7 linked regions of the Homo sapiens genome follow. The protein of the gene in region 1 purifies or fractionates together with the protein of each later gene. This does not show direct contact. Each region holds a gene or a part of one and is shown in the gene's direction. Other genes may lie near its edges.

Region 1 (4,415 bases):
GGGAGCCACAAGTGGGCAACACCCTAAAATCAGATGAGATGAGCAAAAAAAAAGTGCAATTCAAAACAAAAACAAAAAACCACTAACAAAAACCCTATCATGCTCTGAAATATGGTCATTAATGAGAGTCATCTTAAAAGAGTTCAAATGAGTCACATGCAGAAGTACTCCATCCCAACAGATGACCTGTAAGTACCCTGCAAGGTGAGAGGAAAGCACTTCCCAAATCTCATCAGAAGAAATGAACCCCTCCCTAAGGCTGGCTTAAGGGGGCAAGGTAGTTAACTAAACAACAAGCTCTCATGGAGCTCAAATAATAGTAGTGGGACAAATAAAACTAAGTGTAACAAGTGGTTTGAGGCATGGCAATGGCATACAGAATGGCTGTGGTCCTATTTTTAGAGGTGATCAAAGGCCTCCCGAAGGAGGTAACATCTTAACAGAGAACTGAATGAAGGGAGCAGGCCATGCTAATCTCTGGAAGGGAATCTTTCCACCTAAAGGGAAGAAAAGATGCACAGGCACTGAAATGAGAATTTGCTCAGCAAGTTCAAGAACAGTAACATGGCCAGTGCAACAACCATGGAGGAAAGAGGGCCATGACTGGTAGGAGACAAGGTAGGAGAGAGAGCCAGTGTCAAATCATGTCTGGCCTTATCAGCCCGAATTTTTTATACTAGGTATACTGAGGTAATATGTGACTTCCATTTAAAAAGGTTCACTATGATTGCTATATCTAGATCTCTCCTACCCAAAAGGTGAGAAATGACAAGAGGATCAAATAAGATTAAGTGTCCTTGTCCATGTCCATCTAGTACCATTCGAGGGAAAGACATGGTGTCATAGAAACACAGTGCCACAAGAAGGGGTCAATTAGGCTGTGTATCAGGATAAAACACCTCATAAGACCAATCTATCCACTTTGCTTAATTCCATGCTCTCCAATTTCTGTTGTGAATGCTCAGTTTCCTTATAGTACATAGATGCAAGAGCCTCAAACAGTGACCAGGAGAACTGTGTTTGGTGAAAAGGCAATGTCCAAATTATTTCTAAATAAACCAACATGCCTTCTGATTTATTTCTTGTGTACTTGGTTGGCATCAATACAACTGAGTTTCTGAACCTACAGATTTCAAGCTGAAAGCGTGCCTGATAATGTGGCATCCAAGCTTGAGGAGCTGGACTCACTGCCATGCCTACTGCAGCATAGATTGCTCCAGGTCCTCTCCTATGAGGCAGAGTTAGGAGACGGGCAGATAGTTCAAAGTTATATGCAATATATAAAATTTTACTTTTATAGGCAGTACACATTTATTGTATATATCTCATTAATATAAAGTTGTTAATCTTGTGGTGTCTACAATGCCAGGTAGAAGAATAAGGCATGGATTGTTTCTCAGCGTCTACTCAAAACATTTTGTAACCTTACTAGTTGTTTTTTTTTTTTTTTTTTGAGACAGAGTTTCACTATTGTTTCCCAGGCTGGTGTGCAATGGCGCGATCTCAGCTCACTGCAGCCTCTGCCTCCCAGGTTCAAGCAATTCTCCTGCCTTGGCCTCCCGAGTAGCTGGGATCATAGGCGCACACCATCATGCCCGGCTAATTTTTGTATTTTTAGTACAGACGGGGTTTCACCATGTTGGCCAGGCTGGTCTCGAACTCCTGGCCTCAGGTGATCCACCAGCCTCCGCCTCCCAAAGTGCTGGGATTACAGGCATGAGCCACCACACCTGGCCCTTATTAATTTAATCTCAGTATTTGAAAGGCAAATAAATGAATGCCGTTAGAAAGATATTTGCCTGTCTTAATATTATACTATACTTTACCTGGTTAACTTGATTCTGGAGAGATGTTAGGAGGCCTTCCCTTTGTTCATCTTGTCCCTTAAGGCAGGTAAGTACCAGTGAGAGGAAGGGTTGTTGACTCAAAAGAGACATACTACAAAGGAAGTAATAATAACAACAGATCTAGTTAGAAATAATGCATTACTTCCTCTGGCAACATTCATTTCTTTGCCTCACTATTAGATAAATAAGAGAGGTGGTAAATAGCCAAAGACTGCTTGAAAATTTAAATCATACCTCTACTTATAAAATTAAAAGCCACTGTAATGCTTCTAAATCACTTCGTATGCTCTAATTGCCCTCGAAGCCATTCTCAAACTAGCATCAAACCATACTGCATGTGAGCATGCCGGGCAGTGAGGGTAGAAGACAGTGAATTCATCTTCTACATCAATATGCAGAATTTAAAAATGTACATCAGAAAGAATATCAATTTATACACAGGATAAAATTAAAAATTTTTAAAGTTCTCATATAAAACTCTTGTTTTAGAGTCTGGGAAAACAGGCCTATATATATGTCTGTTGAGCTTGTTTTGGGGTTTGATTTTGTTTTTCAGCACATTTCCCAAGACCAAAAAGCAGGGTGTTAGTAGAGCTAATTCATCAGCCAGGGCTGAGGACTCCAAAAACAGTGTACTTGCTGGCGACCCCTAGTGTGCAGCTCCAACACAGCCCACAGGCTCCAACATAGCCCGCAGCATCCACTGGTAAAGAGGTGTCAAGGCATTTGGTTAAAAATTCTGTTTTAAATTGGCATTTTAACAAAATGTCTTCAATTAGAGAATAATCAACAAATCATATTGACAAACAAAGCGCCATGTTGGAAAGACAAATTTCTTAAAATGAGACCTAGGCCAAAATATTTCAATCAGCATTATTCTCCATGGGCAGAATAAAGAGCCCCTGATGTGGGAAGAGCGATCTTTCAAGTCTCTTCAATACCATCTGTCCTGCCTATGGGAAGTTAGGCAATGCACATACACTCACCTATCAGCAAATATGATTTGAAAATTAGAATTATGCTTCCTTGTTGGTTAATTAATCCTGGCCAACATGGTAAAACAACCAGATGTAAAACAAATACAGTACATACAATGCTGGGTCTCTACCAAAATGTACTGTAGTTAAGAGCACAAGCTCAGAAGCCAGACCTCCTGGATTTAAACCCAGGCTTTATGTCCTTCACTGTGTGTCCTGGAGCAACTCATGTAACCTTTAAGTGTCTGTTTCAACATGATATAAAGAAGATAATGAGAGTACCTACCACATGATTGCTATAAGAATTTTAAAAGCTCATGTACATAATGAGTTTTAGAGAGGAGTTGCCATTCTGTAAGCAGTCAATAAATGGTGGCTACTATAGTATTATTCATTAGTGGACAAGAAATCTATGTGCTTAAAATATTTTTTTAATGGAAGAAATTATCAATTTTTTTCCTTTACTCCTAGGTTTCTTGGCATTTTCACATTAGGGTGAGGTTTCTTTCTTTCTCAGTAACACGGTTTTCAAATATAATTACTTGAAACCTTTTCTTGGGCATAAAATAAATTAAGAAAACATTAGTTGTGGTGGCCGAGGAGTCTTAATGTCTAGTCTAGAACAGGAGCCCTAAATGTTAAAAATATGAGCAACTAGTTCAGACACCAACATGCCAGAATTATACATTATATTTATTTTAAACATAAATATCTAAATAATAAAAAAATAGAAATAATTAAAAATAAAATACAGGGATCAGGTAGCTATCCAGATCTGATTCAGTTGGTCTAAAGCGGGTCTCGGAAATCACTGTTTTTAACAGTTCAGCAGTGATTTGGATATAAAGGCAGAATTGAGAACTAATGTATTAAGGATTATAACCTGAAATTTTTTAGGAATAAGACAGCCTTGCCTAATAGAATATTCCCAGTTCCATTTAAAAACTAAATTTCAGTGGACTGTGGGTACAGTGACCACACAGGTTTACAGGAAGTGAGACTTTCTCAATTATTCTTTAAACTCTCACACAGACGCCCATCTTCCAGCCACACCTTTTCTGTTTCTGTCTGTCCCTTTCCTTTTTGGAAGAAGAACCCAAGTGCTGTCCCTTCTCCAGCTCTTCCCCAGCGGCTTTCAGCACTCTTCCTTGCACAGAAGTTGGCAACCTGGCGATGAGGGGGGCCACCAACCATACACCCCTGCGTTCGGAGGAACTAAAATCAGAAACAGGTGTTACACCGGAGAAAGCATCCTTTCCCCTGCTCTCACAGTTATAACAGAAACTCCAAAGCGAAACTTTGATGTATGAGACACACAGACTGTTCTAAAATTTCCCTTTTATTTCTGTATTATCTTTCCTTTTTCCGAACACTAGACATTTGCATGAGCTTTCCACCTAAGCCTACAGAAAGCAATAAAACATGCAGTTCTGGAAGGATATTGTAACTAAACTGACTTTAATGTTTTCCGATGACCCCCTCTCTCTAATTAAAAACAATCACTTTGTCCAACAAACAATATACTTTTCTGTCACAGTTACAATATGAAATATTATATGTAAGCATACTAATAGCTAATTTTTAAGGTTTA
Region 2 (4,415 bases), on another chromosome or scaffold:
ACATTGGGGAGCCATCAGCACACAGATCACCACTTCTCAAACTTTAATGCTCACAGGAGATACCAGGGACTCGCTAAAATGCAGATTTGGGCCTGGCGCAGTGGCTCATGCCTGTAATCCCAGCACTTTGGGAGGCCAAGGCAGGTGGATCACAAGGTCAGGAGTTCAAGACCAGTCTGGACAAGATGGTGAAACCCTGTCTGTACTAAGAACGCAAAAATTAGCCAGGCATGGTGGCATGTGCCTGTAATCCCAGCTACTCGGGAGGCTGAGGCAGGATAATTGCTTGAACCCAGGATACGGAGGTTGCAGTGAGCCAAGATTGCACCACTGCACTCCAGCCTGGGCGACAGAGCAAGACTCCGCCTGGGAAAAAAAAAAATGCAGATTCCAGTTCAGTAGGTCTGGGATAGGGCCGAGATTTTGCTTTTTTTTTGAGATGGAGTTTCGCTCTTGTTGCCCAGGCTGGAGTGCAATGGTGTGCTCTTGGCTCACTACAAGCTCTGCCTCCCAGGTTCAAGCAATTCTCCTGCCTCAGCCTCCCAAGTAGCTGGAATTACAAGCATACACCACACCCGGCTAATTTTGTATTTTTTTTTTTTTTTTTTTGTTAGTAGAGACAGGGTTTCTCCATGTTGGTCAGGCTGGTCTCGAACTCCCGACCTCAGGTGATCAGCTGGCCTGGACCTCCCAACGTGCTGGGATTACACACGTGAGTCACCATGCCCGGCCAAATTTTGCTATTCTAATAAACTTCCAAATGTTGCTGACACTGCCAGTCCCTAGAACACACTTTAAGTAGCTGTAGTTTTTTTGTTTTTGTTTTTGTTTTTTTGTTTTGAGTCAGGGTCTTGCTGTGTTGCTCAGGCTGGAGTGTGTGGCATGAACTTGGTTTACTGTAGCTTGGACCTCCCAGGCTCATGTGATCCTCCCACCTCAGCCTCCCAAGGAATGAGAACACAGACAGGTGTATACTACCATGCCTGGTTAATTTTTAAATTTTTTTATAGAGACAGTGTCTGGCTATGTTGTCAGGGCTGGTATTGGACTCCTGGGCTCAACCAGTCCTCCCACCATGGCCTCCCAAAGTGCTAGGATTACAGGCATGAGCCACCGAGCCTGGCCCTGAAAATTTAAATTAAGGTCTTAATCCTAGGTGCATATGAAAGTCATTGCAGTGCTTTTTATGTTTATTTTTATTTATTTATTTTTTTTGAGATGAAGTTGCACTCTGTTGCCCAGGCTGGAGTGCAGTGGTGCAATCTCGGCTCACTGCAACCTCTGTCTCCCAGGTCCAAGTGATTCTCCTGCCTCAGCCTCCCTAGTAGCTGGGATTATAGGCGCCCGCCACCCTGTCCCGCTAATTTTTGTATTTTTAGTAGAGACGGGGTTTCACCATCTTGGCCAAGCTGGTCTTGAACTCCTGACCTTGTGATCCACCCGCCTTGGCTTCCCAAATTGCTGGGATTACAGGCATGAGCCACTGCGCCTGGCCAGAGTGCTTTTTATTTTTTATTTTTTTATTTTTGAGATAGGGTCTCACTCTGTCACCCAAGCCAGAGTGTGGTAGCACAATCATAGCTCATATAACCTTGAACTGCTGGGCTCAAGTGATCGTCCCACCTCAGCCTCCTGAGTAGCTGGGACTACAAATGAGTGCCACCACACCCAGCTGGTATTTTTTTTCTTTCTTTTTTTTTTTTCTTTTTGCTGTTCTTGATCTCCCGGGCTCAAGTGATCCTCCCACTCTGACTTCCCAAAGTGGATAAGAAGCATGAGCCGCTGTGCCCAGCCTTCAGTGGGGTGCTCTATTTATTTATTTATTTTTGAGACGGAGCCTTGCTGTGTCATCCAGACTGGAGTGCAGTGTGGCGCAATCTCGGCTGACTGTAAACTCCACCTCCTGGGTTCAAGCGATTCTCCTGCCTCAGCCTCCCGAGTAACTGGGACTACAGGCGCCTGCCACCACGCCCAGCTAATTTTTATACTTTTAGTAGAGATGGGGTTTCACAATGTTGGCCAGGATAGTCTCGATCTCTTGACCTCGTGATCTGCCCACCTCGGCCTCCCAAAGTGCTGGGATTACAGGCGTGAGCCACCCTGCCAGGCTACTTTTGACACCCCCAAAATCCAGCCAGGTGCAGTGGCTCACCTCTGTAATTCCAGCACTTTGGGAGGCCGAGGTGGGAGGATTGCTTGAGCCCAGGAGTTTGAGATCAGCCTGGAAAATAGAGGGAAACCCAGCCTCTATAAAAATTGTAAAAATTAGTTGAGTGTGGTGGCGCACACCTGTAATCCCAGCTACTCAGGAGGCAGTGGTGGGAGGATTGCTTGAGTTGGGAGGTCAAGTCTGCAGTGAGCCATGATCATACCACTGTACTCCAGCCTGGGCAACAGAGTGAGATCCTGTCTCAAAACAAAAAATCTTAACTACTAATAGCCCACTGTTGTCCAGAGGTCTCAGTGATTACATAACAGTCAATTAACTTATTTTTTTATGTGAGCCAAAGATTTATGTCTTCATTTCTTGCATTTGAAGTACTCTTGGATGACATCCTTGGCCTGAGACTCCTTGCCATAGTCCTTAACTACTACACAACTGCAACCAACCACTTTACAGGGTTTCCCTTCTCTCAATTTTACAGAGCGCTACCCATTCCCCTAGTTTCTTGTTGTCATCAACCTTAATTAAGTTGATTTGGTGCTCAGCACAAAGGGACTCCACCAGCTTGACATACATAGGCTTATCACAGTTGGATCAAGCACACAAAGATGGGCTTGGCGCTTGTCTAAGGCTTTGGCAGCTTCACAGATTCCACGTGCTAGGCCATCGTGGATGAGGGCGGTCTTCAGCACCTCTTGTAAAGCAGTATTAACATCCATTACACCTCCAGCAGCAATGCCTCCCTCGGCCATGGCAGTGGGTTATGGGTGAAGCTGAATCTTGAACATACCCAAGCCTCCGCCTCCGCGCAACTCGGCAGTGGCAGGGAAAGGGTGATTAACATATTTTTTAATGTTATATATATATATAATACTATAATCTTACAATAAGCTGAAGAAAAGAAAATGTTATTAAGAAAATCAGGAAAACACATTGAATTTACTATTCATTAGGTGGAAGTGGATCATCATAAAGGTCTTCATTCTCATCGTCTTCACATTGAGTAAGCTGAGGAGGAGGAGGAAGAGGAGGGGTTGGTCCTGCTGTCTTAGGGGTGGCAGAGGCAGAAGAGGTGGTGGAGGAGGTAGATGGAGAGGCAGGCACATTCAGCTGTAACTTTTTTTTCTTTCACTCTGTCACCCAGGCTGGAGTGCAGTGGTGGGATCTCAGCTCACTGCAAGCTCCGCCTCCCGGGTTCACACCATTCTCCTGCCTCAGCCTCCTGAGTAGCTGGGACTACAGGTGCCTGCCACCACGCCTGGCTATTTTTTTTGTATTTTTAGTAGAGATGGGGTTTCACCGTGTTAACCAGGATGGTCTCGATCTCCTGACCTCGTGATCCACCCGCCTCACCCTCCCAAAGTGCTGGGATTACAGGCGTGAGCCACCGTGCCCGACCTTTTTTCTTTTTACTAGCCCCTCAGTGTTTAAAGTTGTAACTTTTATTTAATTAAATTTAATTAATTAATTTTTTTGAGACAGAGTCTCACTCGGTCACCCAGGCTGGAGTGCAGTGGCGCGATCTCAGCTTACTGTAACATTGCCTCCCAGGTGCAAGCAATTCTCCCACCTCAGCCTCCTGAGTAGCTGGGATTACAGGCATGTACCACCATGACTGGCTAATTTTTTTTTTTTTTACCGGGGCGTTCCTGAGTTTACGTGGGGCACACCTGGGTGAGGGCCCTACCCCTAGAAGAAGGTGTTGGGCCTTTTGGTGGTGAAGCGTGGCTTGTGCTGATGGCGCAGGACCTGGTGGGGCAGCGGGAACTTGATCTTGGAGTCTTGGAACTGCTTGACGGCCAGCCGGTGGGACTTGCTGGCTGCTATCTCCTCCATCTTCATGATCTGGATGGAATGGGTCCAGGTGGGGTACCGGGCGCCCATGTCTCGGTAGCACTGGGTGACAGCGCCCGTGGTGGTCAGGTCCCAATATTCCTGGTACATGTTGTGGGTGCTGCTCTGGGAGTTTGTAGCGCAGCCAGATGCCGAAGTTCTTCACCCGCAGGCGGTACTTCTCGAATGCCTGCCCACAGTTGACAGTCTCCCCGAAGACTTCTTCATCTTCTTTAGCTGAGATACAAAGTACCAGAAGTGGGACTTGGCAACGACATGATCAGGTGCAAAGATTCGCATGTGGTAGAGGGGTGGTGTGTGGCATTTGGGAGTGAGCAGGCAGCAACCCACCACCTTGTACTCTTGTAGTGTGCCCGAGGCCTTCATGGCATCCTCTCCATGCTTGCCGCCACCGGCA
Region 3 (4,415 bases), on another chromosome or scaffold:
CATATATTTTTGTGCACAGTATTTTCTAACTAAAGGCCCATAAGAATTGTGTCAAAGGATGTGAACATTTATAAGTTTTTTTGTAAATACAAACCTATGATATACATACGTATTAATATTTATGTAACTTCAAAATAAGATTACACTTTAGATCAAGCTTGTCCAACCCGTGGCCTGTGGGCCGCAGGTGGCCTACGGCTTTGAATCTGGTCCAGCACAAATTTGTAAACTTTGTTAAAACATGAGGTTTTTTTTTTTGTTTTCTTTAGCTCATCAGCTGTCATTAGTGTTAGTATATTTTATGTGTGGGCCAAGATAATAATTCTTCCAGTATGGCCCAGGGAAGCCAAAAGATTGGACACTCTGCTTTAGATAATATAATTTTTTATCTGTTTCTCATGTAGAATATATATTATGAGCATTTTCCCATGTTGTAAATGTTTTTAATAACATATAAGGAAAATCTTATACTTCCGGTTATATCCCTGTTATGATCTTTATACAAAATATTTTTATTACATTTCATTTTGGGTTACCAACCTTTTGAGTTCCTTCTTAACAAAAAGCTTCTGGGTAAGTAGGCAGTTGAGAGCAGAACAGTAGCTCTTAACTGGAATGGTGAGAACTCTTCTCAGTGTTGGCAGTTTTAGGGGACTTAATAAACAATACCCTTTTCTACCATTCAAATTGAGCCACTTGAAAGAATAAAGGGAATCAGGCAGATGGAGGTCTGGTAGTGTATGGCCCAGCCTACTTGGGGTGTCTCTGTCCTCTCCCATCCTTATATTTTAGAACATAGGAACTAATTATGACTACAGTCATAAGCTGCTTGATGCTGCCAGTTACTAACCTTCCCCACATATTTTATCTTTTTTTTTTTTTTGAGATAGGGTCTTACTCCTGTCATCCAGGCTGGAGTGCAGTGGCATGATCATGGCTCACTGCAGCCTCAAGTTCCTGAGCTCAGGTGATTCTCCCACCTCAGCCTTCCAAGTAGCTGGGACCACAGACGGGTGCCACCATGCCCGGCTAATTTTTGTATTTTTTGTAGAGATGGGGTTTCACCATGTTGCCCAGGGGTCTGGAATTCCTGGGCTCAAGCAATCTGCTTGCCTCTGCCTCCCGAAGTGCTGGGATTACAGGTGTATGTCACTGCGCCTGGCCACCCTATGGTTAATTTTTGATCCTGCTTTTATGACATGGATTTTAGCAGGAGGGTATCAACATACTGTACTTTTCTGTTGTTTGGTGTGTCTTTGTTGGCTTCATTTATCTTTGGAATATTGCTGACGAGTCCCAGAAGCTGTGGTACAGAACTGTCCGTTCCCATTCATCTACTTTCCCATGTGAATCCAATTCTGTTTAAGCATGTGTCTTTCAGCGATGATGCCTAAAGCCATTCACTAAATTTAGATCTCTGAAGTCTGTTACTAAAGACCCCATTTTGCTAATATCTCTGGGTATGCCATTACTCTAGGAGCAATTGAGATTGAGACATATTTTAGTTCTCTGCTGTCAAATGTAAGCCTCCAGGTACTGTTCAGCTGGAGTTTGCAGGCTGTAGGGCTGTTCACGTCCATTATTGCTTTATGAGGTGTTCTCTGTTGTTTACAGTTTGTAGAGGCTCATTTAGGAACTCTGTCTATATGTCCAGGCCAGTCAAAGCCAGATATCTGTAACTTTAATTTCATGTGGAATTCATTCTCAGGCTTCCTAGGGCTTTAATTTCATGGACACAGAAGCCACGCATTTTACCTAACCTCTATAAAGTACTGGTATTATTAGCCACTTTGCTAAATCTCTGGTAATCTTCATTTGATCAGGCCCCGACCCTAAGTTTAAAGTGACTCCCTAAAATCCAGTCAGTGTCTGCTACTTACACCTCACATTTAAATTGATCTCTTAACACTGATGTTTTTGTTTATCCGCTTGTGCCTCCTTTAAATTGTTATTTTCCCAAAGGTCACATTCTCAGAAGTGGTAGCTTGGTGAGGCGAATTTAACTCCTTGTATCAAAAATGAAGTTTGATGGACCTCAATGGTCAGTCATCTTCTGAAACACAAGCTCACTACTCTGGCCTGACAAAGTGCCAGGATTGACCTTGGAAAAGTGCCAGAGGTGAGGGCCAGGCCTTCCTAATCCTGGGCCCTCCATTCTTTAGAGATTCAGTTGGCCTGTTCTCCTACCAAAATTGTGTTACCCTGTTCTGAGCCTTAATGAGAGTTATTTATAGCTTCTGCTGTCTCATGAGAACTGGGTATCTTAAATTGATAGCTGGCAATCCTGCTGGCAAGATTTGTGGCTTTATAATTTGAACAACCCCAGTTGTTTGCTGTTAAAGTGTCCTGACCTCATCTGGTGATGCCTGCTTGACCAGTATCCCAGATCTCTAGATGTCTATCAACCTCCTTATGTCTGGCCGTTCTTCCACTGTGGATGCTGCCCTTACATTCTCTCTTGGGGCCAATCTGATTGTTATACTGTTTATTATTGAGAATTTTAGGCCTATAGCCATCCATTTGTTTGTGGGCGCATGTGTGTTTTTCTAATATCTTCTTACAAAATTAACAGTGTGTGTATTTAAGAGACAATGTCGCACTGTTTTGCCCAGGCTGCAGTGTGTTGGTGTAATTATTGCTCACTGTAGCCTTGAACTCTTGGACACAGTGGTCCTCCTGCCTTAGCTTCCTGGGTAGCTGCGACTACAGGTGTGCAGCACCACACCTAGCTAATTAATTTTTTTTGGTAGAAACAGGATCTCACTATGTTGTCCAGTCTGGTCTCAAACTCCTGGGCTCAAGCCATCGTCTTGGCTCAGCCTCCCAAAGTGCTCGGATTAACCTTGTGGTTTTATCCTAAACAGCAATAAATGAATGGTATTCTAATTCTCTGTGAAGCTAACTTGGCTAGGTTGTCTTTGCCTGAGCTTCTTAACTTGTCCACATAAATAAATCACTATAATCTGGGGTTAACTGAGTATTCCTTGGAGTTTGCAGGGTTCTGAAAGAACCTAATAAACACACAGCTTGGTGAAATGTGAGTTATGTTTCTAAACTTATGACCTCTAAAGTTATTTGTTGTTTGTATGTAAGAATAAGTGGTGGAAAGATAAGCCCCCGAAAATTCTCGATTAGTAATTTATGTTAATTGTATTTTTTCAGTATATTATTATAGAAAGACAGGAAAGGTAAAAGGCACCAAATATGACTTTGGCTGATAATATTTCTGTTTTTTACTCTGAATTCAAGGTAAATTAGCTATTTTGTTTTATTTCTTCTTCTTTTTTTAATAGGGTTACACATCATTTTGGAATGACTGTATATCATCTGGATTACGTGGCTGTATGTTAATTGAATTAGCATTGAGAGGAAGGTTACAACTAGAGGCTTGTGGAATGAGACGTAAAAGTCTATTAACAAGAAAGGTAAGAGGAGTGCTGAGTAACATTCTTTTTAAAGAGGTTGTACTGCTTAAAATGTATGTTTTTACTAGTAGCCTTCAAAAATTAAAGTGGAAGTTGATATTAAAGTTGTCTTTCTTCAATTGTATTTCCATATCTTTTTTGCATTCTTGGTTTCCTGGTTCTTTCACCTACAATGAGTAATGTAATTGATTGTTAAGGTAACCGGCCACTGGATCTTACAAATTCAGAAAGATTCTAGACTTCATTTGCAGCTTTTATTTATTTATTTATTTTTAATTTTATTTTATTATTATTATTTTTTATTGATCATTCTTGGGTGTTTCTCGCAGAGGGGGATTTGGCAGGGTCACAGGACAATAGTGGAGGGAAGGTCAGCAGATAAACAAGTGAACAAAGGTCTCTGGTTTTCCTAGGCAGAGGACCCTGCGGCCTTCCGCAGTGTTTGTGTCCCTGGGTACTTGAGATTAGGGAGTGGTGATGACTCTTAAGGAGCATGCTGCCTTCAAGCATCTGTTTAACAAAGCACATCTTGCACCGCCCTTAATCCATTCAACCCTGAGTGGATACAGCACATGTTTCAGAGAGCACAGGGTTGGGTTTAAGGTCACCGATCAACAGGATCCCAAGGCAGAAGAATTTTTCTTAGTGTAGAACAAAATGAAAAGTCTCCCATGTCTACCTCTTTCTACACAGACACGGCAACCATCCGATTTCTCAATCTTTTCCCCACCTTTCCCCACTTTCTATTCCACAAAACCGCCCTTGTCATCATGGCCCGTTCTCAGTGAGCTGTTGGGTACACCTCCCAGACGGGGTGGTGGCCGGGCAGAGGGGCTCCTCACTTCCCAGTAGGCGCGGCCGGGCAGAGGCGCCCCTCACCTCCCGGACGGGGCGGCTGGCCGGGCGGGGGGCTGACCCCCCCCACCTCCCTCCTGGACGGGGCAGCTGGCCGGACAGAGGGGCTCCTCACTTCCCAGTAGGGGCGGCCGG
Region 4 (4,415 bases), on another chromosome or scaffold:
TATAGTTGTGTACAGTTTATATTTAAGAGAGATAACCTGTCTCTAGAGCTGGACATTTATAGGTTCTAATGATGCATAGTTGTGGTTTCTGTATTAGTCTCAAGGGTCTTCTAAGTAGTGAGAAAGTTATGAGGTATAGATAAGAAAATCATTAGTTTGACTCTATTTAGCCCGAGTATGTTTTCTAGGTAAAAATGGATATTAAAAGACTTAATTTTAGTTTTTGTTTCTGGTAGTAACCAAAAATTGTCTTGATGGTGGTGGGAGGACTGCTCTGATGGAAAAATCTAAGCCATTTAATGTATTTGGTTTAGCCCTCTCTGTTTATTTCTTTTATAGAAAGGAAGAAAACTGAATTATACCAAGAGTTAGGTCTTCAAGCCAGAGATTTGAGATTTCAGCATGTAATGAGTATCACAGTCAGAAACAATAGGATTATCATGAGAATGGAGGTAAAATATTTTATTTTCATCTATGTTTCTCCAATACAATCTTATAAAAGTTACCTTCTAACTATCTTGATTAGTATCTAGGTTAAAAGTAATTTTGGAATAGAAATAGCTACCTGAAACATAGGATGTTTTATAGCTTAATATGCTATTATGAGTAGAACTCATTTTATATGGATTATATGCACATGTTCAATAGGCATAACACTGCTGTGTTTTAAGTTGGAAAAGCTCTGACTGTGGTGTTCATTCTCACTGTTGGGATTTACTCTCTAGTTCTGGAAACTATAAGACAATCCTGATTTATAATAGATATATATCCAATTGTGTACAGTTACATGTAATTATAGTATAACCTGAGCTACCAAAAATGTATTCTGGCTTTCTAAATAGCACAGGAATAGACATTAAATTTTATAGCCTTAATTTTTTTTTTGAGATGGAGTTTTGCTCTTGTTGCCCAGGCTGGCACGATCTTGGCTCACTGCAACCTCCACCTCCCAGGTTCAAGCAATTCTCCTGCCTCAGCCTTCTGAGTAGCTGGGATTACAGGCATAAGCCACCAAACCCAGCTAATTTTGTATTTTTAGTAGACATGGGGTTTCTCCATGTTGGTCAGGCTGCTCTGAAACTCCCGACCTCAGGTGATCCACCTGCCTCTGCCTCCCAAAGTGCTGGGATTACAGGCATGAGCCACCGTGCCTGGCCAGTTTAAATTTTTTTAATGGAAAACTTTCTGAAATATATTGTATTTTCCCTTACCTATTCAGAGCATGCCAAATAATAATTTGACTTTCTTTAGTGATTCAGAGTTAATGTGGGTTTCAGTTATTTTGGTGGGCTAATGTTTAGGTTCAAAAATAGATGAATGGTATTGGCCCTGTAGTGGGTATGAGACTTTCTTCAAAGAGTCTTTGATGGCAGATTTTTGTTCATTTTTCTAGAACTAATCAAAATAATAAAAAATGGGCCAGTATTGGTAGCATGTGCCTTTAGTCCCAGCTACTCAGGAGGCTGAAGTGGGAGGGTCACCAGAGACCAGGAGTTTGTGACCAGCCTAAGCAACATAGCAAGATCCCATCTCTAAAAATAAATAAGTAAATAAAAAATACTTTATCAAAAATGAAGCAGTCTTCTCCCATGTGATTTTCTTCAGAAATATTCTCTACTCTTGGAATCAGTAGCTAGCATTCTTCAAAACAGTGTCTCTTTCATGGAGAGACAGACAGGTATGTGAAAAAGCAAATTCAGCAGAATGATAATTGTGTAATCTAACTGGTGGGTATATGGTGTTCACTGCAATCTTTCAACTTTTCTGTATAAAAATTTTCATGAGGCTAGGTTGTGGTGGCTCACATCTGTAATCCCAGCACTTTGGGAGGCCGAGAGGGGTGGATCACCTGAGGTCAGGAGTTCGAGACCAGCCTGACCAACATGGTGAAACCCCGTCTCTACTAAAAAATACAAAAATTAGCCAGGCATGGTGGCGGGTGCCTGTAATTCCAGCTACTCAGGAGGCTGAGGTAGGAGAATAGCTTGAACCCTGAAGGTGGAGGTTGCAGTGAGCCGAGATTGCCCCACTGCACTCCAGCCTGGGTGACAGAGCAAGACTTCCATCTCAAAAAAAAAAAAGAAAAAAAAATTCATGATAGAATGTTGGAAAAATGTAAAAATAGAAAATTATCTCTAATTTCTATATCACTGATAAAGTGGCTACCTTTATCTACTTTTAACATACAAGATAACCAGTCTTTTTAGAAAAAATTCTAATTTCATATTGTTCTAAATTAGAGTAGTAAGGCTATGTTTCATCTTAATTTCAGATTTTGTTTATATGCTTTAGTGGTGTTTTAAAAAGGAAACTTCCATTTGTGCCAAACTAATTATGATTAAACTAAATCTTTTCTAAAAGTCTGCTCAATACCTGACTTTTAGGAAGACCTTATCTTGTTCCCTTTATTTATTTATTTATTTTTTCCAAAAAAGAAAGACGGAGTCTCGCTCTGTCGCCAGGCTGGAGTGCAGTGGCACAATCTCAGCTCACTGCAAACTCCGCCTCCCAGGTTCAAGCGATTCTCCTGCCTCAGCCTCTGAAGTAGCTGGGACTACAGGTGTGGGCCACCACGCCTAACTGATTTTTGTATTTTTAGTAGAGACGGGGTTTCACCATGTTGGCCAGGATGGTCTCGATCTCTTGACCTCATGATCCACCTTCCTCAGCCTCCAAAAGTGCTGGGATTACAGGCATGAGCCACCATGCCCGGCTTTCTGGGGGTATTTTTTGGTGTTTTTTTTTTTGTTTTTGTTTTTTTTTCATGATTACCCCAGAAGTCTTAGTAAATATATAATTTATGTGAATAATTCCAGTTTTATTGAGAGTGAGTTAGCAGTATCAAGACATATATTTTTTAAGTTTCTTTTCTTTTGAAAAAAAAAACCTTGATTTTTTTGAAAAACAAAAATGAACACTGATTTGGTTTAGTCTTAATCCACAATTAGTAAAGTATTAAACCAAATTTTATGAATGTTCTTTTTTCCTACAGCTCTACAATTTGCATATATATATGTATGTATACATATATATGTATATACATGCATGTGTGTATATACACTCACATATTTATATGTTTTGGTTTTTTTTTTTTTAACAGTATTTGAAAGCTGTGATAACTCCAGAGTGTCTTCTGATATTAGATTATCGTAATTTAAACTTAGAGCAATGGCTGTTCCGGGAACTCCCTTCACAGTTGTCTGGAGAGGGTCAACTCGTTACATACCCTTTACCTTTTGAGTTTAGAGCTATAGAAGCACTCCTGCAATATTGGGTAAGTCTGTTTTTATTTAGCTTCTTGGGTTTATTCTGATTTTGAAATGTCATTGAGTGGGAAGACAAGTTGGGGTATTGTTTCAATGGCATGTCCCCTGACCACATCCTGCCCCGAAACAAGTCGTCTCTAAGGATCCTACATGGAGATATCACTTAATTCTTAAATGTTATGACCCAGTCAAATAGAACTAAAGACTCTATGTATATTATAAAAATGCTTGACATGTGATAATTATTTTATTAAATCATTTCATCAAGTCATTTTTTGATTTGTTTGTACAATCCTTTGTTTGAGCCAGGTAAATGATGCATCTTTTTGAGACCTAGATTGACATAGGAATCACGCACAGTTCTTCCAGTGACTCCTCCTTTAAATTAAGAGTCCTTAGATGTCTGAGACTCCTGTCAGGCTCTAAACAAGGGTGGTTCTCTGCTTCCCTGACCCCACAAATCTTTCATTATCTTTTCTTCCTCCTGTTAAGTCAGGATGGTACTGTTCAGGAACTGGCTACATGCAAGAGTTGGTGCTGGGAGCATACTAACCAGAGTGGGAGGAGGAGAGAGGGTAGAGAGGACATGAGGTGCATTGGGTTGGGTGAACCTGGCACACTTTTCTTTTGTCTGCCTTGCTCTGAAAGAATAGATGGCTACACTTCCTGCTTGGGGTAATTAATGAGCACCAGCTAGCACCAGCCAGTGAGATGATAAGTAGTGGGAGCCCAGTTACCAAGCAGGGGGAAAGCAGAAGAGAGAAAGAAGATGTAAACAGTGGTAAGTCATGGGCTCCACAGGCTGGGTAAGCTCTCAGGAGCTCATGCTGTTAGGAGAAAGACAGGGATCTTAAAGGGAGCAGGAGGGGAAGGAGAGAGGCTAGGCTGGCATGGGTCTCCGGCCTAGAGATTGGCTGTGGGGAGAATAGAGAGGGAGTTCAGGATGTCTGCTGGGATACACATTCTTCTTCCTTTAAATGGGGTCCCAGGAAGATTTCCTTACGAAACAACACTACATAGAAGCAAGACCAGCCACCTCTCAAAAGGGATAAGTTTTCGAACAAGGGAAAGCTCCCCAAACCCACCTAAGGGACCAAGACATACCATGAGTAGATATGCCTCACAAATACCCTATCTGTGACCCTCAGC
Region 5 (4,415 bases), on another chromosome or scaffold:
AAGAAGGTTGGGCATGGTGGTTTATGCCTGTAATCCCAACACTTGGGGAGGCCAAGGTGGGAGGATTGCTTGAGCTCAGGAGTTCAAGACCAGCCTGGGTGACATGACGAAACCCTGTCTTTACAAAAATTTTTTAAATCGGCCTGGTGTAGTAGTGTGTGCCTGTAGTCCCAGCTACTTGGGAAACTCAGGCAGGAGGATCACTTGAACCCAAAAAGTTAAAGCTGCAGTGGACCGTGACTGTGTCTGGGCATACTGCAGCCTGGGTGACAGAGCAACTCTGTCTAAAAAAGAAAAAAAATTAGAAGAGATTCTGGGGTGGAACCTTAAAAACCTCCTGATTTAAAGAAGAAGTTCAGGAGAAGAGGATGCTGCCATGAAGACTGGGAAAGAGGAAGCAGATGGCTAGATGAAGAGAGGAAGGGCAGTGACCCCAGGGAGGCTGCAGGAAGATAAGGGCAGTGACAGTGGGCCATCCAGTGGGGTAAAGAACTGAAACACGTGTGTATGATTTCATGATGAGATCATTTCAGGCTTCCTGAGAGCACTAGTAAAGGAGCATAAGCCGAATTTGAGTGATTAGAATCCTTTTCTCAGCACTGATATTCATTAGTGTGTAATGGGGTCTTTCCATTACCTCCTTTGCTTCCTTGCCTTTTGGCTAAAGTCAGGTTAAATATATATCACTTCTGATTATGTGCCCTCCTCAACAAAGACATTTCTGTTTGTCTGCATGTCACGCTATGTGATTGACACCACACGACCATATGAATTATGTAGTGTAGGAAAGGACAATATGTGTACTTACACAGGTAATCTTTCTAGCAAGAGTTTTATTTAAAAATACCATGAAGAATCAAGTTTACTAGGAAATATTGGATTTAAACAAGGCTCAATATTCAAAACTTTCTAAATAATTCCCAGATCTTGTACTGTAACATGACCATGATATAAAAACACAAACTATACTAACCAGGGTAGTTTTAAGTAGTGATGCTAAGTAGTACATGCTAAAAGAGTTTGGCATGTACTCTGAAGATTTAATTTGATGTATTTCTCCTGAAAATCTGAAAATTTTGAATCTGAAAATTCTCTTTAGCTAGTAATGCTGATATTCACACATGTGGTTACAACTTCAGCAGAAGGACATCTCTAGTGTTGACTCTTCCTTTCCTTATCTTGTCTCCTGCTTCGTGAAAGATCAGAAATAATATGGGACAGTTGTCTAAAACTCTGTAGATGAAATGTTCAAGTATAGCCTGACCTAAATCCAGAGAACTGAAAGACAAAAAAGGACTTTTAAGGAAAAAAATATGATTAGACAGCAACTAAATAAATAAAAGAATAAATGACTTCTGTTTTATACCTACAGGCTGTTGTCTGCCATTCTCAGAGTTTCAGAAGTTGAATCTCGAGCAATAAGAGCAGATCTCACTCATCTACTAAGTCCCCAGATGGGCAAAGATATTGTTTGGTTTTTAAAACGCTGGGCAAAGACTTATCTCCTGGTGGATGAAAAACTGTATGATCAGGTCAGAATGTAAAACTTAAAACTTCATTTGGATTTATGATGATAGCAGTTATAGAAGCAGGAACATTTTTCTTGGTGGTTTTTCATCAAAATAGAACTGTTTAAGAGCAGTTTAACATTTTCTGTGTGGAAGAGAATTATGTGACTGGAATGCTGTTTTAATGTGTTTTTGAGCACATCCCTTGATATCGTTTATTTTAACTGCTGTTGAAGATACAGATTATTATTTGGGAATAGATTATGCTTTTTTGTATTTGGTTTAATACTATGTTAATTTTTTAATACTATGGGAATAATAGAAGTTGACGGGAAAATCACACTGGAAAATGTGAGTGGATTGAGGATGTCTTTTTTTTTGACCAGTGGAAATGAGTACATGTGTAAAGTTGATGTGAAGTAAGCACTACTTCAGATTAGATACTAATTTCAGTTCGATTTTTCTCTGTTTTTTTTTTCTTGAGTTGATCTTTCTTGCTTACCTTAAAAAATTTGTTTCCTCTCTTAAGATAAGTCTGCCATTCAGTACAGCGTTCGGAGCAGATACAGAGGGTTCTCAGTGGATAATTGGCTACCTCTTACAAAAAGTCATCAGTAACCTCTCAGTCTGGAGTAGTGAGCAGGACCTTGCAAATGACACTGTGCAGCTCCTTGTCACTTTGGTGGAAAGAAGAGAAAGGTTAGCCCATTGTTGGAGGCTGACTGTGTGTGTATGTGTGTGGGTGAGAAACTCTTTTTCACTTCTTAGTGTAGTCCTTTGAACTGGCAAATGGTTACACGGTCCTAATTCCAGATAGAGCCTACATTTTTGGAGTAATGGGTTTTAAAAACTATGTCACAGTACTATTACAAATGCAAATGGAGCTTTCCCATCTTATAATTGAGCATTACATTGACTCCTTCAGGATTTGGCATCAAAGCCCTATGAGTAACACATTAGTAATTTATCGTGTTGCAAACACTTTTATGTGGAATATGCTCATTTGAATTTTTAGACATCCCCATTTTAAAGATTAAATACTGATATTTAAAATTTAATGTTGGAAAGTAAAATTTTTAGTGCTTTCTACAACAATTCTAGAAATGTTTTCGTTGTTCTTACTGTATAGGAGTATCATTGTTATTATTACCATTGTCATTGTCTGGTTTATTGAATTCTTATAATTTACTATGTACTCTTCTAAGCATGTCATAGGTAGTATCTCATTTAATCATTATATCAGTCTCAGCCCCAGGAGACTGTTATTATTCCTATTTTGCAGATTATAGAGAAGTGATGATTGATAGAGGTTAAATAAATTTTACATCACCAGACAACTAGTGGGATTTGAATGTAAGCCTGTGACTTCAAAGTCTATACTAAGTTTACTGTACTTTGCTTTAACAGTAATTAAATCTAGTTATTTTTTATTTTTGTTTTCTTTGTGTGTATATGTGTATGTGTGTATGTATATACATAGTAATACATCTTATGTTTTGTTATTTCTACCTGTAGGGCAAACTTAGTAATTCAATGTGAGAACTGGTGGAATTTAGCTAAGCAGTTTGCAAGCCGAAGCCCACCTCTTAATTTCTTGTCAAGTCCTGTGCAGAGGACATTGATGAAGGCTCTAGTCTTAGGAGGTTTTGCACATATGGACACAGAAACCAAACAGCAGTATTGGACAGAGGTAACAGTGCTGTCTATTTTGATTGCACCCTTTTGTGTAACTCTGTAGTTCCTTTATCTATGCGTTGCCGTAAGAGTCTCTGGAGACATAAATGTATCAGTCATAGCTTTTCTTTCTTTCTTTCTTTCTTTTTTTTTTTTTTCTGAGATAGGGTCTTACTCTGTTGCCCAGGCTGGAGTACAGTGGTGCAGTCTCAGCTCATTGCAGCCTCTACCTCCCAGGTTCAAGCGATTCTCCTGCCTCAGCCTCCCAAGTGGCTGGGACTACAGACTCATGCCACCATACCCAGCTAATTTTTGTTTTTTTTAGTAGAGACGGGCTTTTGCCATGTTGGCCAGGCTGGTCTCGAACTCCTGGCCTCAAGCAATCTGCCCGCCTTGGCCTCCCAAAGTGCTGGGATTACAGATGTGACCAGCCACTGTGCCCGGCCCAGTCATAGCTTTTCTGATATTTTTTCTCCTAATGAATGGGTTGAAGCTTCTTATTTTACAAATGTTGTCTTATAATTTTTCTGTACCTGCCTGTGTGTGATGACATTGAATATTATCAAGTGTTCTGCATTTTAGGCACATTTTTCACAACTCAGTCGAGAGCATGGACTGGCTTATTAAATTTTCATTAGGGATCAGGGAAATATTCTCCTGTCTTGAATAAGATGCAGATTAACCATGATATTCATTTCCTAGGGCTGCTCTAACAAAATACCACAACAGAAATTTGTTTTCTCCTACTTCTGGAGGCTAGAAGTCCAAGCTATAAGGTGTCCATGGGATTTGTTCTTTCTGAAGGCTATGAGGGAAAATCTGTAGCCTCTGGTAGCTTGCTGGCAGTCTTTGGCATTCCTTGATTTGTAAACGCATCACCCTGATCCCTGCCTTCATCTTCACATGCTCCCCCTGTGTGTGTCTGCATCCACACTTCCCCTTTCTATATCAGTTATATTGAACTAGGGGCCCACCCTATTCCGGTATGACCTCATCTGAACTAATTACATCTATGACAACCCTATTTTCTTTTTTTTTGAGACGGAGTCTTGCTCTGTCACTCAGGCTGGAGTGCAGTGGTGTGATCTTGGCTCACTGCAACCTCCACCTCCTGGGTCAAGCGACTCTCCTGTCTCAGCCTCCTAAGTAGGTGGGATTACAGGTGCGCACCACCATGCCTGGCTAATTTTTGTATTTTTAGTAGAGACGGGGTTTTGCCATGTTGGCCAGGCT
Region 6 (4,415 bases), about 140 Mb from region 1:
GACGGGGTCGCGGCCGGGCAGAGACGCTCCTCACTTCCTAGATGGGATGGCGGCCGGGCAGAGACGCTCCTCACTTTCCAGACTGGGCAGCCTGGCAGAGAGGCTCCTCATATCCCAGACGATGGGCCGCCAGGCAGAGACGCTCCTCACTTCCCAGACGGGGTGGTGGCCGGGCAGAGGCTGCAATCTCGGCACTTTGGGAGGCCAAGGCAGGCGGCTGGGAGGTGGAGGTTGTAGCGAGCCGAGATCACGCCACTGCACTCCAGCCTGGGCACCATTGAGCACTGAGTGAACGAGACTCCGTCTGCAATCCCGGCACCTCGGGAGGCCGAGGCTGGCGGATCACTCGCGTTTAGGAGCTGGAGACCGGCCCGGCCAACACAGCGAAACCCCGTCTCCACCAAAAAAATACGAAAACCAGTCAGGCGTGGTGGCGCGCGCCTGCAATCGCAGGCACTCGGCAGGTTGAGGCAGGAGAATCAGGCAGGGAGGTTGCAGTGAGCCGAGATGGCAGCAGTACAGTCCAGCTTCAGCTTGGCATCAGAGGGAGACCGTGTAAAGAGAGGGAGAGGGAGACCATGGGGAGAGGGAGAGGGAGGCCATGGGGAGAGGGAGAGGGAAAGGGGGAGGGGGAGGGGAGGGGGGGAGGGAGGGAAGGCAAGGGAGAGGGAGAGGGAGAGGGAGAAAATATTATCTTGTATATCAAGGTTGTATAGATGACCTCACCTGGTTTGGTGTCTTCCCACAGCCTGTCCTGGGGGAACAGAGAGGCCCTGCGGTGGCTACGGGCAGTGTGAAGGAGAAGGGACACGAGGGGGCAGCGGGCACTGTGACTGCCAAGCCGGCTACGGGGGTGAGGCCTGTGGCCAGTGTGGCCTTGGCTACTTTGAGGCAGAACGCAACGCCAGCCATCTGGTATGTTCGGGTAGGTAGCCAAAAGGTGTGGCACTGGGCAGGGGCAGATGGGGCACCTGCCTGCCCATCCTCATGCTGCCCCCATTCCACCCAGCTTGTTTTGGCCCCTGTGCCCGATGCTCAGGACCTGAGGAATCAAACTGTTTGCAATGCAAGAAGGGCTGGGCCCTGCATCACCTCAAGTGTGTAGGTAAGTGGGGCCCTAGCTAGGTCTGGGAAGATGGTCAGGGGCCTGGGCTTGGTCCTTTATTCTCTCAACACAAGCCTGGGCTAGACTAGCCTAGTCTCCACCTTCATGGAGATCTCAACCTGGCTGGGAAGGCAGAAAAGTAACCAGATACTTACAGTCCAGTACACAGGTACTGTGTAGTATAGTCCCTGTGTACAGTGAGAGATGCCTCTGATCTAGTTCAGTGGAAGTGGTGATGGGGAATCAGGAAAGGCTTCTTGGAGGAGGCGTTACTTTGGCCAAGTCCTAAAAATTGAGGAAGGGGCTGGGCGCGGTGGCTCACGCCTGTAATCCCAGCACTTTGGGAGGCCAAGGCGGGCAGATCATGAGATCAGGAGATCGAGACCATCCTGGCTAACATGGTGAAACCCTGTCTCAACTAAAAATACAAAAAATTAGCTGGGCGTGGTGGCGGGTGCCTGTAGTCCCAGCTACTCAGGAGGCTGAGGCAGGAGAAGGGCATGAACCTGGGAGGCGGAGCTTGCAGTGAGCCGAGATCGCACCACTGCACTCCAGTCTGGGCAACAGAGGGAGACTCCATCTCAAAAAAAAAAAAAAAAAAAAAAAAAAATGAGGAAGGGTTGGCTAGGAGAATGAGGACACTGAACTTGGGGTCAGGAAACCTGGGTTCAAGACTTGGTTTGGTCCCAGCCTAGCCACTTATATAGACTAAAGTAAAGGCTAAGCTGCTGTAACAAAAATCCCCAAAAGACTGTGGCTTAAAGAGTATAGAGGTTGGCTGGGTGTGGTAGCTCACTCACGCCTCTAATCCCAGCACTTTGAGAGGCTGAAGTGGGGTGGATCACCTGAGGTCAGGAGTTCGAGACCAGCCTGGCCAACATGGCAAAACCCTGTCTGTACTAAAAATACAAAAATTTAGCCAGGCATGGTGGCAGGTGCCTGTAATCCCAGCTACTCGGGAGGCAGAGGCAGGAGAGTCGCTTGAATCCAGGAGGCAGAGGTTGCAGTGAGCCAAGATCACACCATTGCACTCTAGCCTGGGTGACAAGAGCGAAACTCCATCTCAAAAAAAAAAAAAAGAATCTAGAGGGTAGAGGTTTATTTTTTTTTATCATATTACAGTCCCAAAGTGAGTAGTCCAGGCTGGCAGGGGAGCTCTGCTAGTCATAATCATTCCAGTACCCAGATTATTCCTGTAACTTACTGCACAATCATCCCCTTGGGCGTTGTCTGCATGGTTGAAGCTGAGTCCTGGGCATCTCTGTGTCCCACATGCCAGCACTCAGGAAGGGAGAAGGGAAAGAAAGTGCATTGAGGAGTCCAAGCATTGTTTTAAGACCAAGCTAACGGTGGAGCTCATCACTCCTGTTTACATCCTGTTGGCCAGAACTCAATCACAGGGACACACTTAGCTTCAAGACAGGTTGGCAAATGTGGTCTCTGGCTGGGCAGCCTGAAGTCCAGCTAGTCTGCTTCTGTGTTGGTAGACAGCTTGCAGTCTCTGCCATACCATTTAATCCCAGGCAAGACCATTCCCCAACGGCTCTGGCTTCAGCTTCCCTACTAAATAGGGATTGAAATTCTCACCCTGCTCACCTCTCTGCAGACATTGATGAGTGTGGCACAGAGGGAGCCAACTGTGGAGCTGACCAATTCTGCGTGAACACTGAGGGCTCCTATGAGTGCCGAGGTCAGTGTCTACTTCTGCAGAGGAGGGGACGTGAGGAGTGGAGGAAGAGCTGCTCCACACCTGTCCCTCCAAACCTTCCCCTTCTCAGGCTTCAGAGCACCCCCAGGCCTCCGCTTCTGGAGCGTGGCTCCCCTGGGCCTAGGTGCACATCTCACCCTCATCTTTCTCTCCTCTCTCCAGACTGTGCCAAGGCCTGCCTAGGCTGCATGGGGGCAGGGCCAGGTCGCTGTAAGAAGTGTAGCCCTGGCTATCAGCAGGTGGGCTCCAAGTGTCTCGGTGAGTCTCCTGCTGATGGGACACAGGCACCTGGGAGTGCCTCACCCAGCATGAATGGTGAAGAGGCTGGAATATGGGCAGGTGGGGGAAGGAAGGGTGGAATGTTGCCTGGGCAAGGGCAGAGGGGAGTGTTGAGAGATGGACAAGATGGAGTCAGGGTGCTGGGTGGGGGGCCCTAGCAGGACTCTGACCCCTCCCTCCCCTCAAGATGTGGATGAGTGTGAGACAGAGGTGTGTCCGGGAGAGAACAAGCAGTGTGAAAACACCGAGGGCGGTTATCGCTGCATCTGTGCCGAGGGCTACAAGCAGATGGAAGGCATCTGTGTGAAGGAGCAGATCCCAGGTGAGCCCTGGGGCGGGAGAGGGGAGGTCCTCATTCAAAGAGAAGGCAGGCAAGCCCCTTCCCCAGGTAGCAGTGGCAGCTCCAGGCCCTGCCCCATCCCTACTGCCACCCAGCCCCCTGGAGGCTGCACTGAGACCGGGCTCTACATCTGATCTCCAGGTTGGCTCTCAGCAGCCTTATACCTTCCAGGGTACAAAGGGAATCAGACCTGGCATCAAATCAGTCTGCCTCCTTAACCTGTTTCCTCATCTATCCAATGGGACCAGTGTTTGCCCTGGCCTGCTGAGAGCTGTCCTAGGCCGGGGGTGTGGTGAGATGCAGGGTAATCACAACGATGATGGCAGGGACCATTTCCCCAGCAATTACTGTGTCAGATGCTGTTCTAGGTGCATTCCCCATCTTAACTGATTTAACCCCTGAAACAACCCGACGCTGGAAGTTGGGTTCTCATCCCCACTCTACATATGTAAAAATGAAGATGCAGAGAGATGAAGCTACTTTCCCAGGGCTATATGGCAAGCAAGTCGCAAAGCTGGGATCCCAATCCAGACAGTCTGACCGTGGAACGAGACTCATACACGTAATAAATGCTCTGCCCCCAACTTGTCCACCACATGGCCTTGGCAAGTCCAACCCCTTTACCTCTCTGAGCCTCACTTTCCCATTTAGTGAGACAGGGATGGTAACTGCCCCTTGCAGGGTGGTTTTGAGCAGTAAATGTAGTGTGCCTGGCTTGCTGGGCAGGCCTGGTGGCCATGATGATCAGGTGTGTGGGAGTTCTGGGGAGACTCCAAGAACTACCAGGAACAGGGATACGAGTGCCAGGCTGCATCTCTTGCTCCTCTGCAGAGTCAGCAGGCTTCTTCTCAGAGATGACAGAAGACGAGTTGGTGGTGCTGCAGCAGATGTTCTTTGGCATCATCATCTGTGCACTGGCCACGCTGGCTGCTAAGGGCGACTTGGTGTTCACCGCCATCTTCATTGGGGCTGTGGCGGCCATG
Region 7 (4,415 bases), on another chromosome or scaffold:
TCCCAAATCATTTGGTGTCTAGTTGAAGAGAGAAACAAGTTTAAAGAGTTAAGTAACAACAAGATGCCAGTGTTTGGTGTTTTTCATTTGTTTTTGAAACAGGGTCTTGCTCTGTCGCCTAGGCTGGAGTACAGTGATGTGAATCTCAAGGGATCCTCAGCTACTGAGTAGCCAGGACTACAGACATTCAACACCATGCCTGGCTAGTTTTTATATTTTTTGTAGAGATGGCATTTCACCATGTTGCCCAGGTTGGTCTTGAACTCCTGGCCTCAAGTGATCCTCCCACCTTGGCCTCCAGTATTTGATTGTCAGATGAGTGATAAAAGTCATGATTGGTATGAGATCAGACGAGGGAAAGCTCTAGACCAAAAAGAGTTGGAATAACTTTATGGAAGGGGAGGGATTTAAATGAAGCCATGAATTAGAGGTAGAATTTTGATGGATTAGAGAGGCAGATAGTCATACTGCCTCTAAGCCAAGATCAGAGCAAGTCAGAATAGTACTAAGTTTGTTAGTAGACAACTAAGCAGTGGGAGTAGTAAAGTGCTTCACAGGAATTTCGAAGGTAGGTTTGATTAGATGTGGAGTAGAATTGTAGACAGGGGAGAGCAGTGAAGAAGTAAGTATTCTGCATTCTATTTAGGCTATTCATTTAAGAAGTTTGGCAGTAAAAGAGAGAAGAAAATAACTAGAAGGGAAAGGCAATTTAAAAAATATTTTTCTCAAGGTATTAGAAATACATGTGTATTTAAAGACCACAAGAAGGGCCAGGCGCAGTGGCTCACGCCTGTAATCCCAGCACTTTGGGAGGCCAAGGCGTGCAGATCACTTGAGGTCAGGAGTTCAAGACCAGCCTGGCCAACATGGTGAAACCCTGTCTCTACTAAAAATACAAAAATTAGCCAAGTGTGGTAGTGTATGCCTGTAATCCCAGTTTCTAGGGAGGCTGAGGCAGGAGAATTGCTTGAACCCAGGGGATGGAGGTTTCAGTTAGCTAAGATCAGGCCACTGCACTCCAGCCTGGGTGACAGAGCAAGACGCTGTCTCAGAAAAAAAAAAATTAAAGACCGCAAGAAGAAAAAAAGGGTTTTTTTTTTTTCGATAGAAAAAATTAGATCTCTGATAGACGTCTTCAATTCTAATTTCAGTTGGTTTTGTTTTGTTTTGTTTTGTTGTGACTTGGGGTTCCGGCTGTGTTACCCAGACAGACTGTAGTGGCCATTCACAGGCGAGATCCCACTACAGATCAGAATGGAATTTTGACCCACTCTGTTTCTGACTTGGGCTGTTCACCCCTCCCTCCTTAGGCAACCCAGGAGTGGTTCCTCACTCCTGGGAGGTCACCACATTGATGCTGAACTTAGTACAGGCACCCAATTGGTATAGCATGCTCTAGCCCAGAACACTGGGTTCAAGCTGTTCCCCTACCTGCGCCTTTGGAGTGGCTGGGACTATGGTGTGTGCTGCCATGCCAGGCTGACTTAGTTTTTAAAAAAGGAAATAGGAACACAAGTTATTTTTCACATTAAAAAAAAATTAATACCATCACATAGAAGATGAAGAGAAAAAAATTTTAAAAATTGCTAACTTTAATTCTTAACCATGTTTTCTGCCTTCAAATCATGAAAAATCTAAGCATTAATCTCTGTTGAAACCCATGTTCATTCCTTGGATACTAATAAACTCCTTCATTTTCTTTCTAAAGACAAAAAACTTCTGGACTTTGTGAATCCAGCTGTCATTTTACACACACCTGCATACACACACACACAGCCACGCGTGCACACACACACACACTTTCCTATTAAAGAGAAATTACTAAAGGGGAAAGAGTGCTTGGTCTTTGGGAAGTTGAGACTAGAATTTATCTGATGTTCCTGCTTTCCTACATACAGCATGAAGAAGACTTTGAATTACGGAAAGAACTGATTGGACAGGTGATGAACCAGCTTGGACAGCAGCTTGTCAGCCAGCTGCTGCACACCTGCTGCTTTTGCCTCCCCCCCTATACCCTACCAGATGTGGCTGAAGTGCTCTGGGAGATCATGCAGGTTGACAGACCGGTAAGATTGTTTTCATGAGGAATTTATCTCATAGTCCCTAAATGTAATAGGCTTTGGTTCCTTAAGGCCAACCCTAATTTTGAAACTAGCCCTGTTTTCTGTCCATGGAACCAAATTTAGGCATATTGCCAAATTAGATTGGTAGATGAAGAGGCCCGTAAAGATCAGTAATTTATTATTGAGTTCTTTAAAGCATGTTTCTATGTCACTGTCATAGGGGGTATATTACCAGAAGTAAGTATCAAGCATTGAATTCAGTTGTGTGGCTGTCCAATGTGAAATTTGTTCACTTGTGAGAGATGCCCAAATGTCAGTTATATTAGTTACGTATTACTCAAGAAGTATTTAATCCTTTCAGACTTATTCTATAGCACTGTATTATTTCTTGGTGATACATCTAGCCAGAACATTTGGAAGCACATAATTGTCAAAGTAACCCACAATGTACAGTTGGATATATTTCCCCTTTGGATTTCTTTGAACCAGATCCTTTATCACCCACCTAAGGATGGAGTTGTTTTTTTAAAGCTATCTAATAATGCCCAAGTAATTTCAGTACTGGGCCACATGACCATAACTCAGGTTATGTGTACTGTGTGAAAGTTGAGTAGAATGGTAAAGTATAATATAACCTGAAATCATTTTTAAAATGGAATTTATAATTTTTAATATTACTGTAAAAGCAGTTCAGGAAAGTACTCATTGGGACCTAGTTAAAGTGAGCTGTCTTACAGAACCACAGAATATAAAATTGATAATAATAATATATAACAGATAGTACCTATTCCTCTCTGGTTCAATACACATGTTCCATTTCAACCTGATAGAGTAGCATATTTGTTTTTCTAAAGAAAAGTACTTTTTGAGCCTCCAGGAATCAGCAAATTTAATTCAAAAGTCCTTGACCTGAGGGAAAAAGTCTTCATACTCTGCTTAAACTTTTTTACAAATACATTTGGTTCCCAAGTAACAGAAAACTTATGTAAATCTAACTTTATGAAAACATTCTTGATTGTAAGCATATTGTTAAGTGCGAACAACAACAACAAAAAATGAGAACAAGAAGTTTGGACAGGAATAGAAACCAGGTAGCCATGTACTCTAAGGAGTGTACTGTATATCAGCCAGACACAATGGCTCATGCCTGTCTTCCCAATACTTTGGGAGACCAAGGCAGGAGGATCACTTGACGCCAGGAGCTTGAGACTACCAGCCTGGGCAACATAGACCCCATCCCTACAAAAAAAAAAAAAATTTTTTTTCTTTTTAATTAGCTGGGTGTGGTGGCATACATCTATAGTCCCAGCTACTCAGGAGGGTGAGGTAGGAGGATTGCTTAAGCCCAGGAGTTCCAGCCTGCAGTGAGCTATGATCATGCCACTGCACTCCAGTCTGAGCTGCATAGCAAGACCCTGTCTCAAAAAAGAAAAAGTTTGCTATATAACAACTATTATGTATTTTTAAGAATTAAGGAGCTGTTATGTATCCATAATTAAGAAATGCTTAGTACTTCATGAGCATTTATAATACTTTTGCTCTGGCCTATTATGGCCATAAATGAATATGATGGGAAAATATATAATGTAAAAAAAATTAGGTATAAAAGAGTAATTTTACAGCCCAAAACTATGACTGAAGTATACATTCCACTTAAGAAAGGGATGAAGAAATATTAGTGCTGACCCAAAGGACAACAATTAAACTGAAAATAAGAACCCAGAGGAAGTCTGTAGAATTTTTATTTTAGAAAGGAAGGAAGTAAAGGGAGTAGACAATTTTTGTGCATAGAAAAGGCATAAAGAGAATTCTTAGATATACTTATATAAAAAATATATAAGTAAATTAAACAGCAACAAGAGCAAGGTTTTTTAACACAAAGAACAGGCAGATATCACAAAGGAACTGAATGGATAGGACTTATTCTGAGAGAGATGGCCTTAAAATCCTTAAGATTCTGGACTCATATGTCTCATATGTATACTTTCTGACATGGTGGCTTAGTATACTTTTTGCCCCTGCTCTTTCAGGTATCTGAACCTTTACTCTGGATCACTTTTGATCTTTAAGCTCAAGAGTTTTTGGAAATCTGTTTAATTTTAAAAATATACTGGTCAAGTGCTTACACCTGTAGTTCCAGCACTTTGGGAGGATCTCTTGAGCCCAGGAGTTTGAGACCAGTCTGGGCAACATAGAAAGACTCCTCATCTCTTAAAAAAAAAAATTGTTTTTAATTAGCCAGGCATGTTGATGGACTTCTGTAGTCTGAGCTACCTGGGAAGCTGAGGTGGGAGGATCACTTGAGGCTGGAAGGTCAAAGCTGCAGTGCACTGCACGCCAGCCTGGGCAACA

The links.
Region 2: the proteins of P2RY12 (region 1) and ECSIT purify together in Homo sapiens (affinity purification with mass spectrometry; 3 studies listed by BioGRID and IntAct, with this or other methods). This does not show direct contact.
Region 3: the proteins of P2RY12 (region 1) and GOLPH3 purify together in Homo sapiens (affinity purification with mass spectrometry; 3 studies listed by BioGRID and IntAct, with this or other methods). This does not show direct contact.
Region 4: the proteins of P2RY12 (region 1) and MRS2 purify together in Homo sapiens (affinity purification with mass spectrometry; 3 studies listed by BioGRID and IntAct, with this or other methods). This does not show direct contact.
Region 5: the proteins of P2RY12 (region 1) and XPO4 purify together in Homo sapiens (affinity purification with mass spectrometry; 3 studies listed by BioGRID and IntAct, with this or other methods). This does not show direct contact.
Region 6: the proteins of P2RY12 (region 1) and CRELD1 purify together in Homo sapiens (affinity purification with mass spectrometry; 3 studies listed by BioGRID and IntAct, with this or other methods). This does not show direct contact.
Region 7: the proteins of P2RY12 (region 1) and TNPO3 purify together in Homo sapiens (affinity purification with mass spectrometry; 3 studies listed by BioGRID and IntAct, with this or other methods). This does not show direct contact.

Annotation. Positions count from the first base shown.
Region 1 is NC_000003.12:151,377,636-151,382,050, reverse strand, and holds part of P2RY12 (P2Y purinoceptor 12), read left to right. Parts: intron 1-1,826; coding exon of another isoform or gene 1,827-1,938; intron 1,939-3,877; coding exon of another isoform or gene 3,878-4,039; intron 4,040-4,415. Other genes in the region: MED12L (mediator of RNA polymerase II transcription subunit 12-like protein), read right to left, coding at 1,827-1,938, 3,878-4,039. UniProt on the Homo sapiens protein: Receptor for ADP and ATP coupled to G-proteins that inhibit the adenylyl cyclase second messenger system. Not activated by UDP and UTP. Required for normal platelet aggregation and blood coagulation.
Region 2 is NC_000019.10:11,521,937-11,526,351, reverse strand, and holds part of ECSIT (evolutionarily conserved signaling intermediate in Toll pathway, mitochondrial isoform 1 precursor), read left to right. Parts: intron 1-2,498; exon of another isoform or gene 2,499-2,996; intron 2,997-3,801; exon of another isoform or gene 3,802-4,415.
Region 3 is NC_000005.10:32,142,759-32,147,173, reverse strand, and holds part of GOLPH3 (Golgi phosphoprotein 3), read left to right. Parts: intron 1-3,293; coding exon 3,294-3,425; intron 3,426-4,415. UniProt on the Homo sapiens protein: Phosphatidylinositol-4-phosphate-binding protein that links Golgi membranes to the cytoskeleton and may participate in the tensile force required for vesicle budding from the Golgi.
Region 4 is NC_000006.12:24,409,122-24,413,536, forward strand, and holds part of MRS2 (magnesium transporter MRS2 homolog, mitochondrial isoform b precursor), read left to right. Parts: intron 1-339; coding exon 340-452; intron 453-1,605; coding exon of another isoform or gene 1,606-1,678; intron 1,679-3,100; coding exon 3,101-3,274; intron 3,275-4,415. UniProt on the Homo sapiens protein: Magnesium transporter that mediates the influx of magnesium into the mitochondrial matrix and regulates magnesium metabolism. Also permeable to calcium, sodium and potassium ions.
Region 5 is NC_000013.11:20,797,948-20,802,362, reverse strand, and holds part of XPO4 (exportin-4), read left to right. Parts: intron 1-1,372; coding exon 1,373-1,532; intron 1,533-2,037; coding exon 2,038-2,207; intron 2,208-3,023; coding exon 3,024-3,198; intron 3,199-4,415. UniProt on the Homo sapiens protein: Mediates the nuclear export of proteins (cargos), such as EIF5A, SMAD3 and isoform M2 of PKM (PKM2). In the nucleus binds cooperatively to its cargo and to the GTPase Ran in its active GTP-bound form.
Region 6 is NC_000003.12:9,940,102-9,944,516, forward strand, and holds part of CRELD1 (protein disulfide isomerase CRELD1 isoform 2 precursor), read left to right. Parts: intron 1-748; coding exon 749-925; intron 926-1,009; coding exon 1,010-1,105; intron 1,106-2,711; coding exon 2,712-2,795; exon of another isoform or gene 2,796-2,796; intron 2,797-2,975; coding exon 2,976-3,071; intron 3,072-3,279; coding exon 3,280-3,414; intron 3,415-3,573; coding exon of another isoform or gene 3,574-3,650; exon of another isoform or gene 3,651-3,788; coding exon of another isoform or gene 3,789-3,994; exon of another isoform or gene 3,995-4,263; coding exon 4,264-4,415. UniProt on the Homo sapiens protein: Protein disulfide isomerase. Promotes the localization of acetylcholine receptors (AChRs) to the plasma membrane.
Region 7 is NC_000007.14:128,967,799-128,972,213, reverse strand, and holds part of TNPO3 (transportin-3), read left to right. Parts: intron 1-1,898; coding exon 1,899-2,066; intron 2,067-4,415. UniProt on the Homo sapiens protein: Importin, which transports target proteins into the nucleus. Specifically mediates the nuclear import of splicing factor serine/arginine (SR) proteins, such as RBM4, SFRS1 and SFRS2, by recognizing phosphorylated SR domains.